Homo sapiens: one gene and its partner. The protein of the gene in region 1 interacts with the protein of each later gene in a pairwise test. Each region holds a gene or a part of one and is shown on either strand. Other genes may lie near its edges.

Region 1 (7,093 bases):
TACTCAAAGCTTCTCGGGGCTTATTCTTTACTTGGCTCTAGTTCCTGATTCTTGGGGGTTTACCTCACTCTTGTCTACCTGGAGAAATCTACTCATATGTTAGTTTTGGAGCCCGGAAGAACCAGGGCTGACACTCAGTGTTTATAATAAGAGTTAATTCCCAATTTGGTATTTGTAGAGAGTCCACTGTGTTCCAAGTACTGTGTAAGGTTCCGGAGGAGATATCGGAGGTGGATAAATATTGGTCCTTGCCTTTGGGGAATTCAGAGTACCGAATAGCTCTTTAGGCCATTCTCTCATTAAGTATTTTCCAAATTTCAGCTCTTTGCACATCAGCTTCAAGGTTTTCGTCATATCCATGTACTACTTGTATAATTATTTACATACTATTTCTGCCTAGATAAACTAACCTTTTTTATCTTAGAAAAAACTGAATGGCTTAAAGTAACAAGTAAGACAGCTGGGCAAGTCTCTGCATGTCTCCCCTGGGTTCACTCATGCAGCTACAGTCATCTCAGATGGTCTTACACAGCTGGTGCAGGCTGTTGGCCAGCCTCACCCTCCACATTGTCTCTCATCCTCCAGGACACTAACCCAGGCTTCTACACATGGTGGGAGCAGCGTTCCAGGTGATGAGATCAGCAGCTGGGAGACCTGGTGAGGACTAGACTCAGATGTCCCATAGCATTAGTTCTGCTGCCTTCTGTATTCACAAGTCACAATGCCAAACATGATTCAACGAATAAGGAAATGGACTTCACCTCTTATTAGAACAGAGGCAAAGTCACAAGGCGTATGGATTCAGGAAGGGAAGGAGTTATTGTGTCATCTTTTTGATCAACTTACCATATCTGGAAAACACTAGCACAAAGTGGGTGTAGGAATATTAATATCAAAGTTGAAGTCAAGGTGAAAAGAAACTAAGAGGAAATATTTCTTAGAGATAAAAGAAACACTACAAGAAGAAGATAAAATAGTCATGAGCATGTTTTCGTCTAATGACATACATTCAGAATATGTAAAGCAAAAGCTGTTAAAGAATAAGGAGAGGCTGGGCACACTGGCTCGCAGCTGTAATCCCAGCACTTTGTGATTACAGCACTTTGTGAGCCCAGGAGTTCAAGACCAGCCTGGACAACATGGGGAAACCCCATCTCTACAAAAAAAATACAAAAAGCCAGGCGTGGTGGTGTGAGCCTGTAGTCCCAGCTACAGTGAGGACAGGCAGGAGGATCACATGAGCCCGGAGAGATTGAGGCTAAGATCGCACCACTGCACTCCAGCCTAGGCACAGAGTGAGAACCGGTCTCAAAAAAAAAAAAAAAAAAAAAAAGGAAAAATTGACCCCAAAAATCACAGTGTTAGATTTTAACATATCTCTCTTGGAAAATAAAATATTAAGCACTTTAAAAAATAAAGATCAAGACTATTTGACTAACACAATAGCATGACCTAATAGAAATATTCTGAACTACGTTCTAAGCAGAGTATACACATTCACAAAAATTGACCATAAGCTAAACTGCAAAGGAAATCTTAACACATCTCCCCACCCAAAAATAATACAACACGGACCATCTTCTCTCACCACAATGCAATACAATTAGAAATGAAAAACAAAACGATAGCCAAACAAAAAACAAACCAGTGTATGTCTAGAAACTTTTAAACAGACTTGTAAATAACTCAAGTTAAAGGGGTAGCAGGACCAGAACCTAGACTTCCAAATAACCAGTGTAGTTCATGATCTAGTCCTTTTGTTCATATAAAGCTATTTGTTTTAAAATAGTTGCTGAATTACATGAAAGGGTGAGAAAGTGGGAGAGACAGAAAGGCAGAGACAAAACAAGGTGGGCTGGGAAAGGGATTCACTGGAGCAACGAGTTCAGTGTATGGAAGAATTGAAGGGTCAGATAGTTATTACCAGCCAGGTTCAGCAAAGCCTAGAAGGATCTGCTGGTCTCAGTGACCTGGGCAGGCAAACACCACCCAGCGGAGGCCAGGGGAAGACACCAGCAAGCAGGCCAGATCCTTTGAGCTTGGATCGTGGGGTAGATTCTATTTGCTTCTAATCCTTTAGTGCAGATGAGCTCCTGTGTGCAGAGGAGAGAGGTGGCTCCTAGAAGCGGGTAAATTCCAGAAACTACAAGGGGCCCAACAGTCAGTATCCAGAAGGATTCCAGATGGTTCCAACTCAACAATGCCAGAATACTCACAACATAGCAACTGTCCGTTTTCTGAACATTGGAGTCCAGTGGTGCCTGAGCCAGGAGGCTTGCCAATTCAGTAGACCAGACGTGGTATTTGCTCTACACAGCACAAATCAGAGGGCATATTTGATAGTGATAACATAGCAGTCATTTAGCTTGTGTAGAGGGTTACTCGGGATATTTCAGACCCCCAAAATTCTACTTGTGGCCTTAATTATTCACATTATTTGATCACATCAGTTAAAATACAGAGTACCTATCATTCTTTCCTTTGCACTATGGTAACGGAACATCTGTTGGGCTGAAATCAATTTTTTCTCCTTTTTGTGTGAATTCATTGATGCCTTCATCCACCCACTCACCCATCCCTCCATTTAACTAACACTCAAAGCAAACTTAACACATCTCAGATCCTCAGTGCTTCATGTGTCATTGTTTACGTCTCCTCTGATTACTTGTAGATGAGAAAAATAAAGAAGGTGGTGTGAGTTACTTGGGTGCAAAACGATATTCTAGTTTTGCACTAGAAGTGCTCAGCTAAAACTGTGCTAGATAAATAACTAAAAAAAAGGAGAGAGAAAAATGAAAAAAAAAAAAAGAGCGTCAGAGAGGAAACGGGAGGGTCTCAGTGGGGAATTCGGCTTCCTGTCGTCTGGGTTTTGATTTTGAGTTGTACTAGAGGAGTCTTTATGTCTGGAATGCTGAGAAAACCAGCCCAGGCCAGGCGGGCTGTGAGGGCAGGATTTAGAGGCGTTTAGTTTCTTAAACTCTATAGTCTGGATTCCGGTGTCAGGGGCCTGAGCCATTTTCCTCCTCCCCTACCCGTCAGCTCCCACTCCCTCCAAACTTCCTAAGAAAGTTCTGAGTCCTGCAGAAAGACAGGCTTCTCCATCTTCCACACCCGCGCAGATTTCTCTTTCCTCACACATGCACGCCCAGGCCCAGCGCCCCAGCCCCTCACCCCCAGGATAACTGTTAGAGTCTCTCACACGGGGCTGTCATCATTAACACCCCGAGATTCCCGAGGGCTAGGACACTGAGGCCGGTGTCCACATCTGCCAAATTCCTCCCATAGCTGCGTGCGAACTGAGTATGTTCCTAAGACGCCTAAGGAGTTCAGCACGGGGCTCGGGGTCCACTGCGACACTGCGCGGACAGCGGCCGCTCGGCTGGGCCTCAGGTGGGGAGGGCTCGCGGTCCTGCCCTGAGCCCGGGCTCCGCAGCTCGGCGCCTGCACCGCTCCCCTCGCCGAGCCCGCGGCGGAGTCTGCCGGCCGCACGCAGCAGGTCTGGGGCTCACCTTGAATCGGGACCTGCGGGGACCGCCGTGCGGCTTCCCGCTGGGTGAGCGCCGCAGCCCTGAGTGGCGGGGCAGTCATTCCCCTTTTCCAGATGGGAAAGCCAAATCTTGAGCCCAGCGCCAGCACCGTGTTCTCAGGTGCTGGGACTTCCAACCCGCGATCTCCTCACTGTAGTATTTCTGGGAACCTTCCCTGGGATTCCCCTCGGGGCGTAGAGGGAAGGAACGTCTGGGGACAAGCGTCCAGGAAGGGTCTGGATTCTTTGTCCTCCGCCGGGAGCAGGCCCCACCGCAGGCGCCAGTGTGTGGGGCGCCCCGGAGACGGTGGCGGGGACCGAGCCCCTGCCCCGCGGAGAAGCAGAGGGCGCGGGACGCCGTTCCCCAGCGCTGCCGCCGCCGCGCTCGCCAGGGCCTGGAGTGGCGCGGAGGGCGGCGGGCTCAGACCAAAGTCCACCAGGGGGCAAAGTCCGCGGGCCCCAAGCCCCCACCACGGGGTCGCGGGGGTTTGCTCCGCCTCGTGAGCTTGGGATTCTGGTTAAAAAGGCGGCTGGGCGGAGCTGCGGGCCTCCGACGGCGGGAGGACAGCGCTGCGAGGAGGCGCCCGGGACAGTCATGGAGCGCCGCCTGGGAGTGAGGGCCTGGGTGAAGGAGAACCGGGGCTCCTTCCAGCCCCCGGTCTGCAACAAGCTCATGTGAGTCCAGCACCCCCATGGCCGCCCCCTGCCCTCGCCTCCTCCCCCTCCTCCATCTGCGCCCTCACCTTCCAGCTCCGAGTTCCTGGACCCAGAAGCTTGCAGAAGGACCGCTTTAATCTCTTGGTTCTTGGGGGAAGATGGAGACAGGCTGTTCCGGTTCCACCACATCGGTCTGTTCCTCTTTCTTGTGACTGTGGCCTTGACTTCTGAAGAAGGCTGAGCTGGTTCTCAGGCTGTAGGAGATGACATGACAGGGTGCACCTCTCCTTCCAGGGCTGAGAAACAATTCTCCAACCCCAAGTGACACTGTGCATTTTGGGAAAACTCAAAAGTGTGGGGAGGGTGGTTTTCAAGGCAGAAATGCACTAGAATGTAGGCCTGGGGGCAGCCAAATCATACACCCCAACCCTGTCCCAGAAGCCACAGGCAAAGGGGGAGGCAGAGAATCCGCTCCTTTGGGAAGATCTTGATGTCTTGCTTTTTTCAGGGCCCCTCTATGCAGGTGTGCACGAACACACACACACACACACCACACCAGACCCTCCCTAGGCCACCTCTGCCAGTAGCCTCTGCCTGCAGCACCCAACAGGGTTGGCCATCCAGCTGCCATCTTTCTCAGGCAGACCTCTCAGGCCCTCCCCTGTGGTATGGTCACCTCCCTCATCCCCCCAGTTCCATGGCGGGGCCCCACATGCCAGCTAGATCAAGGTTTACATTCCCCATTTTTGCTGTGTCCACAGGACATGGTCAGTAGGGTGGCACCTCAAGGCAAACAGCAGGCCCAGGACTATGCCAAGTGTTTTTACATCATCTCATCTCATTCTCACAGTAGCACCGTGAGGGGGGATTTTCATAAGTAACTTTTCTAGTGTCACGGAGCGCCTGTGCGATAGGCTCCAGACTCAACCCACGGAGCAGTTCGACTCCAGAGTCCACGCACACTCTTGGTTACCATGCAATACCACATGGCCAACAGTCAATATCTCCCCAAAGATCTCTTCTATCACTGTTGTTGCCCACCCCCAATTAAAGATGTAGCATCATCTTTGCCTCCTTCCAACACTTCATCCCCATCTGCAGTCGCTCCTTCTCAGTCCTCCCTTCGCTCCCCCTGAGGTCTCGCGTCCATCTGCCCGGGCCTCTCCCTAGCATTTGGTGGTTTGCTGGCATCATTGGTATTCTTGCTTCTGCTGTACCACGCCCACCTCCACCTTCGTCTTCACAAGGCAGTCTCCTTGTGTGTGTGTCTGTGTCCAAATTTCCCTCTTTTAAAAGAACACCAGACATATTGGATCAGGGGCTCACCCTACTCCAGGATGACCTCATCCTAACCTAACTACATCTCAAGGACCCTATTCCAAATAAGGTCACATTCTGCAGTACTGGGCGTTAGGACTTCAACATATAAATTTTACAGGAGGGGTTACTATTCAGCAAGGTGAGAAGCTGCTGAAGCAAGCAAGGTGAGAAGCTGCTGAAGAGTTCTGGGCAGAGGAGGGGCAGGTCTGGTTTATGCATTCTGACTGATGGGTTGAAAGAATTCTTGAGTGGAGTTGTTTAAGAATTGTCTGTATGTACCTAAATTACATCTCAGTGAAGTTGATTTTAAAAAACAACTTTCAAGCCGGGCGCAGTGGCTCATGCCTGTAATCCCAGCACTTTGGGAGGCTGAGGTGGGTGGATCATTTGGGGTCAGGAGTTCAAGACCAGACTGGCCAACATGGTGAAACCCCGTCTCTGCTAAAAATACAAAAATTACCTGGGCGTGGTGGCACGCGCCTGTAGTCCCAGCTACTCAGGAGGCCGAGGCAGGAGAATTGCTTGAACCCGGGAGGTGGAGGCTGCACTGAGCCGAAGTTGTGCCACTGCATTCCAGCCTGGGTGGCAAGCAAGACTCTATCTGAAAAAAAAAAAAAAAAAACAAACTTTCCAGGTTCCCCAGCACCCCTTAGGCCAAGACCAGACTCCATGGCTGGTCCACCCTCCTGGACCAGCCTTCTCAATCGTTCCCCAAGCTCACCCCCAGTGCTTCTAATCTCAGAGCCTCTGCACCCAGCTCTCCTGTGCACACTCTTCCCCAGTCAAGTTCCTTGCGGCTTCCCTCCCCTCCTTGAAGCTCTATGCAGCTTTAAGTTCTTTAAGCATGGACTGTTCATGACAGCCTTCTCCTGCCCTGCAACCTCATCCACCTTTCCAAACATCAGGTCCACACGTGTGTTTCCGGTTTATTGGGCCCAGCCTCCCAAAAGGGAAGGAAAAGGAAAGAGACTGGCTCTTCCGTCTTGCCTCCATGCCTCCCAGCTGGGCTGGAAAGCAGCCCACAGGACAGGACACTCAGAAAGGACCTGCCAGTCTAGTTTGGGGGCTCAGACCTCCCCCATAGCCCCTCCCCTGCCATCCACACCATCGTCATCCATGCAGGCAGCCTCTAGGCTGCTGTGCCCTGTGTGTACAAATGGTCCCAGACCCAGCGCCTCCCCTTCCCAGAGGAAAGCCCTTGCCCCTGCCCTCTGTGGCAGGGCCACCTGAGAACACCCTGAAGCCCTACACAGACACATTCTGCTGCTTATTCACCCCAGTGTCTGCACCCTGAAAGGGGACCCTGCTGTGGGGATGGGGCAGGCTGTTCTCAGGAGGTGCTGAGGTATTTTTTGCATAAAAAGGTAACACCACACCAACAGCAGAAAGACTGAGGAGTTTGGGAACCCTTTTGTTCCAAACAGCTGACTAGATGCCCCACAGACCCAACGCCAGCGTGGGAGTCAAGGAGCCTGAGACCTGGCTCAGGTTCAGTCATTCCCTGGCTTTGTGACCCTCTCTTGGCTGGCTAAATCGGCTGTAAAATGAGAGGGTTGTATTGAGTTTATTTATTTATTTATTTATTTAAGA
Region 2 (6,792 bases), about 130 Mb from region 1:
TTCATCAACCTTTTGGGTTTCATTTCTGTACCTAAGGAAAAAAGCTAACTATTGGAATTTCCCCCAAAATATGAGTGAGGGAGAGGATTACCATTTGATTATTTGTTTCAAAAATATTTGTATGCAATCAAGGAAAAGAAATTTTGATTTCATAGTTTTATATTACATACCTTGTTTTTGTTATAAATTAATTTTAATAATTTCTATGTTTAAGATTGAGTCTAACTGTCTAACTAACACTCAAACAACAAGATTTTCTGGCAAAATTTCTAGTCAAATATTTCTTCTGTAGGAAAAATTTGGTAGATTATTAGTTTTTTCCTCAGTAAGTCATTTTGTCTTTTTTTTTTTTTTTTTTGAGACAGTTTCATTCCTGTTGCCCAGGCTGGAGTTCAGAGGCGCGATCTCTGCTCCCTGCAACCTCCGTCTCCCAGATTCAAGCAGTTCTCCTGCCTCAGCCTTCCAAGTAGCTGAGATTACAGGCATGCGCCACCATGCCCATCTAATTTTATATTTTTACTAGAGGCGGGGCTTCACCATGTTGGCCAGGCTAGACTTGAACTCCTGACCCCAAGTGATCCACCCACCTTGGCCTCCCAAAGTGCTGGGATTACAGGCGTGAGCCACCGCACCCAGCTCTATTTTGACTTAATATAGAAATAGTCTGAATTTGATTTCTATTACAAAGTAATCATAGGAATTTTAAACATATAAATAGCCATAGGCTGGGCACGGTGGCTCACGCATGTAATCCCAGCACTTTAGGAGGCCAAGGCAGGCGGATCATTTGAGCTCAGGAGTTCGAGACCCATCTGGGCAACAAAGTAAGACCCCATCTCTACAAAAAATACAAGTTAGTCAGGTGTGATGACGCATGCCTGTGGTCCCAGCTACTTAGGAGGCTGAGGTGGGAGGATCACTTGAGCCCAGGAGGCGGAGGTTGCAGTAAGCCGAGATCATGCCACTGCACTCCAGCCTGGGCAACAGAGTGAGACTCCATCTCAAAAAAAAAAAAAAAAAAAAAAAGCCATAAACGGCAACAACAAAAAAGGAGTCGTGTCATTTTGAAATATAATGACCACACAACCTGTTTCAGTAATTTGTGTCTTCTTTTTTGTTTCTAACAATAACCTCTTGAACCATCTGCTGCAGGTTTTGACCATAGTGATTGGTTGCTGAAATGGGACCCTGGTACAGGCTTCATTCCTAAGTGGACTGACTAGGGTGTACAGTCAGCAGTGACACTACCTGGGGAGGCTGATGCTTTCTCAGTGCTGGACTTTGCTCAGGCCCATTAGCAATCCACAGCCAGCCTTGTGCATCTGCTCTCCTTGTTAACACCGACCCACTCAACAACCCTCATACTGCTGTTATTAATCAGCCATGCTGGCTTTTGAAACTCATGCTCAACCAGTTTGTCAATAGTTGGAACTATTGCAATATCAGGGCATATACTGAGACCAATGGCTTCCCCATCTACCTGCCTGCCTGTCACCTAAAAGGCATAACACTGTTATGTGGAAGGTTGCCTGCCTGAGAGGGCATGGGACATGTTTCACAAGGACTTACTGCTGGGGAAGATGAGTTCTACAGCAGTATCTTTCGAAGTTTTTCTGATGAAGAACCAGTTATTTGTTGTTGTTGTTGTTGTTTTTCACCTATCATGGACCAATACCCTAAAGATTAATTGTTAGAAAAATGAAATTTAAAAACATACAAAGAACAAGCCACTGTTTTTTATTAGAGTCAACAGACAAAATCCCTTTGTCCAATTGCCATTAAAGTTTCCTATGCTTAATCTCAATTTCTACACTCATTTGATTGTAGACCAGTTACAGTTGTGGAGTGGCCTCAGTTCATAGATGACACTTTGAGTAGCACCATCCTAAAGCAAACCAGAATCAGGCATAGGTCCAGTTGAGAATAACTACCCAGAGACTGGAGTGCCTTTGAAAGAGGAAGCAGGCACACATCATTTATTGCATGCACATCTGTGAAAAAGCTGACATATTTGATTAGATTGTTCTTCCTAACCAGCTCCAAAAATACTTTTTTTGTTTATTTCCCATAGACAGGGACAGCATAGCCTTCCCAAATGCTCATCACAGGGAAATGCAACCACAAACATGACTTTTCTCTTTAAAACAGGGCACAGTGGGATTTGAAAACCAGATCAACAAATGCCTGGAACTGGCTGAATACCTCTATGCCAAGATTAAAAACAGAGAAGAATTTGAGATGGTTTTCAATGGCGAGGTAGGTAATCATCATGGACCAGGTACACAGTATTTCCAGAAAAACTGCTGAGGGAAGCTCCTGAAGCTTCTGGCAACATGGGAAAATCAATCCCATGTTGCCAGAAACTGCTTCAAAATTTTTATTCTTATACACTCTTAATTCCTCTCTTTAATTCCTTCCATGTCTATGAACTTTTCTTCTGGTAGCACTGGGATGACTTTTTCCTTTACATCTTTTAAAACTGTGTTGCTCTTGGCCAGCTTTTGGCAGACAAGAGGTCTTTCCTTGACAGGTCTGAATCCTTCATCATTCTTGGGTTTGTTTTGTGTTGAACCTTTATGAAAAAGTGTTTTTCAGGCTGGGCATGGTGGCTCACACCTGTAATCCCAGCATTTCGGGAGGCCAAGGCAGGAAGATTGCTTGAGTCCAGGAGCTCAAGACCAGCCTGGGCAACATAGCAAGACCCTGTCTCTATAAGAAAAAATATATATAATTTATGAAAAGAAATTTTACAAAACGATAAAGTGGTTTTCATTTCCAGGAAGCTTATAGGATGGGTATATTCTTACCTCCCAAGACTTGTTCTAAAATAAGGTTCTACTTAACATAGACTCATAAGGAAGAGAGCAAGATAAAATTGTCTCTGCCCTCAGTTCATGTGCATACTGCACACAGCAAAGTATTTGTCAGTGTTTACTGAGTACCCACTGTGTGCCAGGCCTCCTGCTAGGACCTAGATTCTAGAGTATTGAACAAAACAGATACATTCTCTGACCCAATGGAGCTTACACTTGAATAAAGAAAGATAGAATAGGAGCCAGTGTTGAATAAAAGAAAATCCACTTATAAGCCAGTATAATATAACACTGCTTACAGTCAACATTATTCTATTTATCAGGCAACCTAAACTACTAGGAACACATGTGAATCACCAAATGAACAAAAAAGAGCCCTGGGCAGTTTAAAATCAGTGACACTGCTCTGATCATTTACACACTACTTTAAACACTCTTAATAGCAGATTAAAAACAACAAATGTGATATCTCAAACCAATTAGAGGCAGGCACAGTAATGGCAAACAGCAACCAGCGAGAAAACTTTATAGCAAGAATAGGGAAGAACTCAAAAAGCACAGGAATCTTTAGAGGAGGGACACTAAACAGTTTGAGGCATCTCAACAGGCCTTGCCTTATGCTGTAGAAACAGTCTTTTGGTTTTTTTTAGGAGCAACCCTATTAATTGATATATCCAGTCTTAATGTTTGTTATGATAGTCCTGAGTCATCAAGAAAAGATTCAATATCAATATAATAAACTCAATAAAATATTCATCAGCATCCATAAACTATGTTTCAATTATCTTCTATATGTGAGGCACTACAAAATGACAACATGGACAGACGGATACCTTTTTTAAAAAATTGCCCAAATGTAATTATTTGTAACATTTCAATGTTTAAAGTCGGTAACTTTAGTTACCTAGAAAATTGGTTGTAGGGAACAGCTCTCTTGCCACATATGATTGGATAAATGAGGCATTGTTCTCCCTGGTGTGGAAGTAACATTGCCTTTGAGATGAACATTCAACCTCTTTCTTTGGTCCAAGAGACTTCCACCAAGGATGCATATTGGTTTGGGAACAGCTTTCTCTCAAGTTATCCTAATTTTCTTTGTTTGTCTTTTAAAATCTCTGCAGCCTGAGCACACAAACGTCTGTTTTTGGTATATTCCACAAAGCCTCAGGGGTGTGCCAGACAGCCCTCAACGACGGGAAAAGCTACACAAGGTATGGACTTGCTTTTTGTCTCATCTAATCCTCTGCAATTTCTCTGGCTGGTCAGGACATCCTCATTCCAATGTGCCTTTCTAGTGGGGGAAATATAAAAAATAAAGCCTTGGGGTGGGTTTCTAGTAATGGGGTGGTGGGGAGCCATCCTGTTATATTCCTCTTGAGCCTGCATCGCCCCCTTACTGTGGTTACCACGGGAACTTCTAAAGGATGCATCTTGTCTCCTTGTCCTTGGTTGATGTTCTTCATTAAAGGAGCCCTATGCAGGGTAAGGGAATAATGTGCATATTCCTAGGGACATTCTAGATTAAACTGTGTCTGTTACAATAACATTTTAAGTTCAGGCCCACTGTAATGCTGATTCATTCTAACTGTTTTCTATATCCAGTTTATATCTTATCCAGGGTTCTTAAGATTATATTTAATTTATATAACATTTCATTCATCCAACCATTCAACAAATATTTGTTAAACACAGTCTGTGTGCCAGGCAGTATCCTGGGCTCTGGGTTATACAAAACCCTGAATTTGTGGTGTTGTCTATAAGAGTTTTTTGGTTTTGTCTTCATTTTTTATTTTACTATCATTGTTCCATGACTGACTTTCAAAATTCGGTTGCACAGTACTTTCTGAGGGAACTTGTGACCAGGTAGTCATTTGATATTAGCCCCTGAAGATTCCTGGATATGAAATATTTCTTTGCTTTTATGTCAATGTAAACACAAATAGTAAAATGCAAGTTGGGTTGAATTGTTAAAAAGAGAGGGTGTTCATATCAATCTTGAGTTTTGTTTTGTGTTTTCCATCACAAGGTGGCTCCAAAAATCAAAGCCCTGATGATGGAGTCAGGTACGACCATGGTTGGCTACCAGCCCCAAGGGGACAAGGCCAACTTCTTCCGGATGGTCATCTCCAACCCAGCCGCTACCCAGTCTGACATTGACTTCCTCATTGAGGAGATAGAAAGACTGGGCCAGGATCTGTAATCATCCTTCGCAGAACATGAGTTTATGGGAATGCCTTTTCCCTCTGGCACTCCAGAACAAACCTCTATATGTTGCTGAAACACACAGGCCATTTCATTGAGGGAAAACATAATATCTTGAAGAATATTGTTAAAACCTTACTTAAAGCTTGTTTGTTCTAGTTAGCAGGAAATAGTGTTCTTTTTAAAAAGTTGCACATTAGGAACAGAGTATATATGTACAGTTATACATACCTCTCTCTATATATACATGTATAGTGAGTGTGGCTTAGTAATAGATCACGGCATGTTTCCCGCTCCAAGAGAATTCACTTTACCTTCAGCAGTTACCGAGGAGCTAAACATGCTGCCAACCAGCTTGTCCAACAACTCCAGGAAAACTGTTTTTCAAAACGCCATGTCCTAGGGGCCGAGGGAAATGCTGTTGGTGAGAATCGACCTCACTGTCAGCGTTTCTCCACCTGAAGTGATGATGGATGAGAAAAAACACCACCAAATGACAAGTCACACCCTCCCCATTAGTATCCTGTTAGGGGAAAATAGTAGCAGAGTCATTGTTACAGGTGTACTATGGCTGTATTTTTAGAGATTAATTTGTGTAGATTGTGTAAATTCCTGTTGTCTGACCTTGGTGGTGGGAGGGGGAGACTATGTGTCATGATTTCAATGATTGTTTAATTGTAGGTCAATGAAATATTTGCTTATTTATATTCAGAGATGTACCATGTTAAAGAGGCGTCTTGTATTTTCTTCCCATTTGTAATGTATCTTATTTATATATGAAGTAAGTTCTGAAAACTGTTTATGGTATTTTCGTGCATTTGTGAGCCAAAGAGAAAAGATTAAAATTAGTGAGATTTGTATTTATATTAGAGTGCCCTTAAAATAATGATTTAAGCATTTTACTGTCTGTAAGAGAATTCTAAGATTGTACATAAAGTCATATATATGGAAATCCTGTTACTTAAATAGCATCTGCTCTTCTCTTACGCTCTCTGTCTGGCTGTACGTCTGGTGTTCTCAATGCTTTTCTAGCAACTGTTGGATAATAACTAGATCTCCTGTAATTTTGTAGTAGTTGATGACCAATCTCTGTGACTCGCTTAGCTGAAACCTAAGGCAACATTTCCGAAGACCTTCTGAAGATCTCAGATAAAGTGACCAGGCTCACAACTGTTTTTGAAGAAGGGAAATTCACACTGTGCGTTTTAGAGTATGCAAGAAGAATATAAATAAATAAAAATATTCTCCATGGAGAATTTGAACAAAATTTTCTTCTAGTTTGTGTTTCATACAGAGATGTTTCTAATTAGAGTTCCTTGGGTTGCCCATAGCCCATTTGCTTTCTATTGGCTGACTTTAGGTGATGCTCAGTACCCTGATTAAGCTGAAGGAGACTCGATCCACTGTCACAGGCTCTGAAGCTCCTCATCTATAAAATCATTATGGGCTGGGCATGGTGGTGCATGCCTGTAATCCTAGCACTTTGGGAGGCTGAGGCAGGCAGATCACTTGAGCTCAGGAGTTCGAGACCCATCTGTGCAACAGGGCGAAACCCTGTCTCTGCAAGAAATGTAAAAATTAGCCAGCTGTGGTGATGCGCACCTGTGGTCCCAACTATTTGGGAACCTGAGGTGCAAGGATCACCTGAGCCCAGGAGATCAAGGCTGCAGTGAGCTGAAATCGTGCCACTGCACTCCAGCCTGGGTGACAGAGTGAGACCCTGTCTCAATCAATCAATAAAATCATTATGATTATAATTAATTAAATGTGCAGTTCA

What was found. Proteins that work in one complex are often made in the same cells at the same time.
Region 2: the proteins of HAAO (region 1) and GAD1 interact in a two-hybrid assay, tested with the Homo sapiens proteins (4 studies listed by BioGRID and IntAct).

What each region holds. Positions count from the first base shown.
Region 1 is NC_000002.12:42,789,565-42,796,657, reverse strand, and holds the start of HAAO (3-hydroxyanthranilate 3,4-dioxygenase), read left to right. Parts: upstream 1-4,074; 5' UTR 4,075-4,121; coding exon 4,122-4,201; intron 4,202-7,093. UniProt on the Homo sapiens protein: Catalyzes the oxidative ring opening of 3-hydroxyanthranilate to 2-amino-3-carboxymuconate semialdehyde, which spontaneously cyclizes to quinolinate.
Region 2 is NC_000002.12:170,854,870-170,861,661, forward strand, and holds the end of GAD1 (glutamate decarboxylase 1), read left to right. Parts: intron 1-2,148; coding exon 2,149-2,256; intron 2,257-3,934; coding exon 3,935-4,024; intron 4,025-4,839; coding exon 4,840-5,013; 3' UTR 5,014-6,282; downstream 6,283-6,792.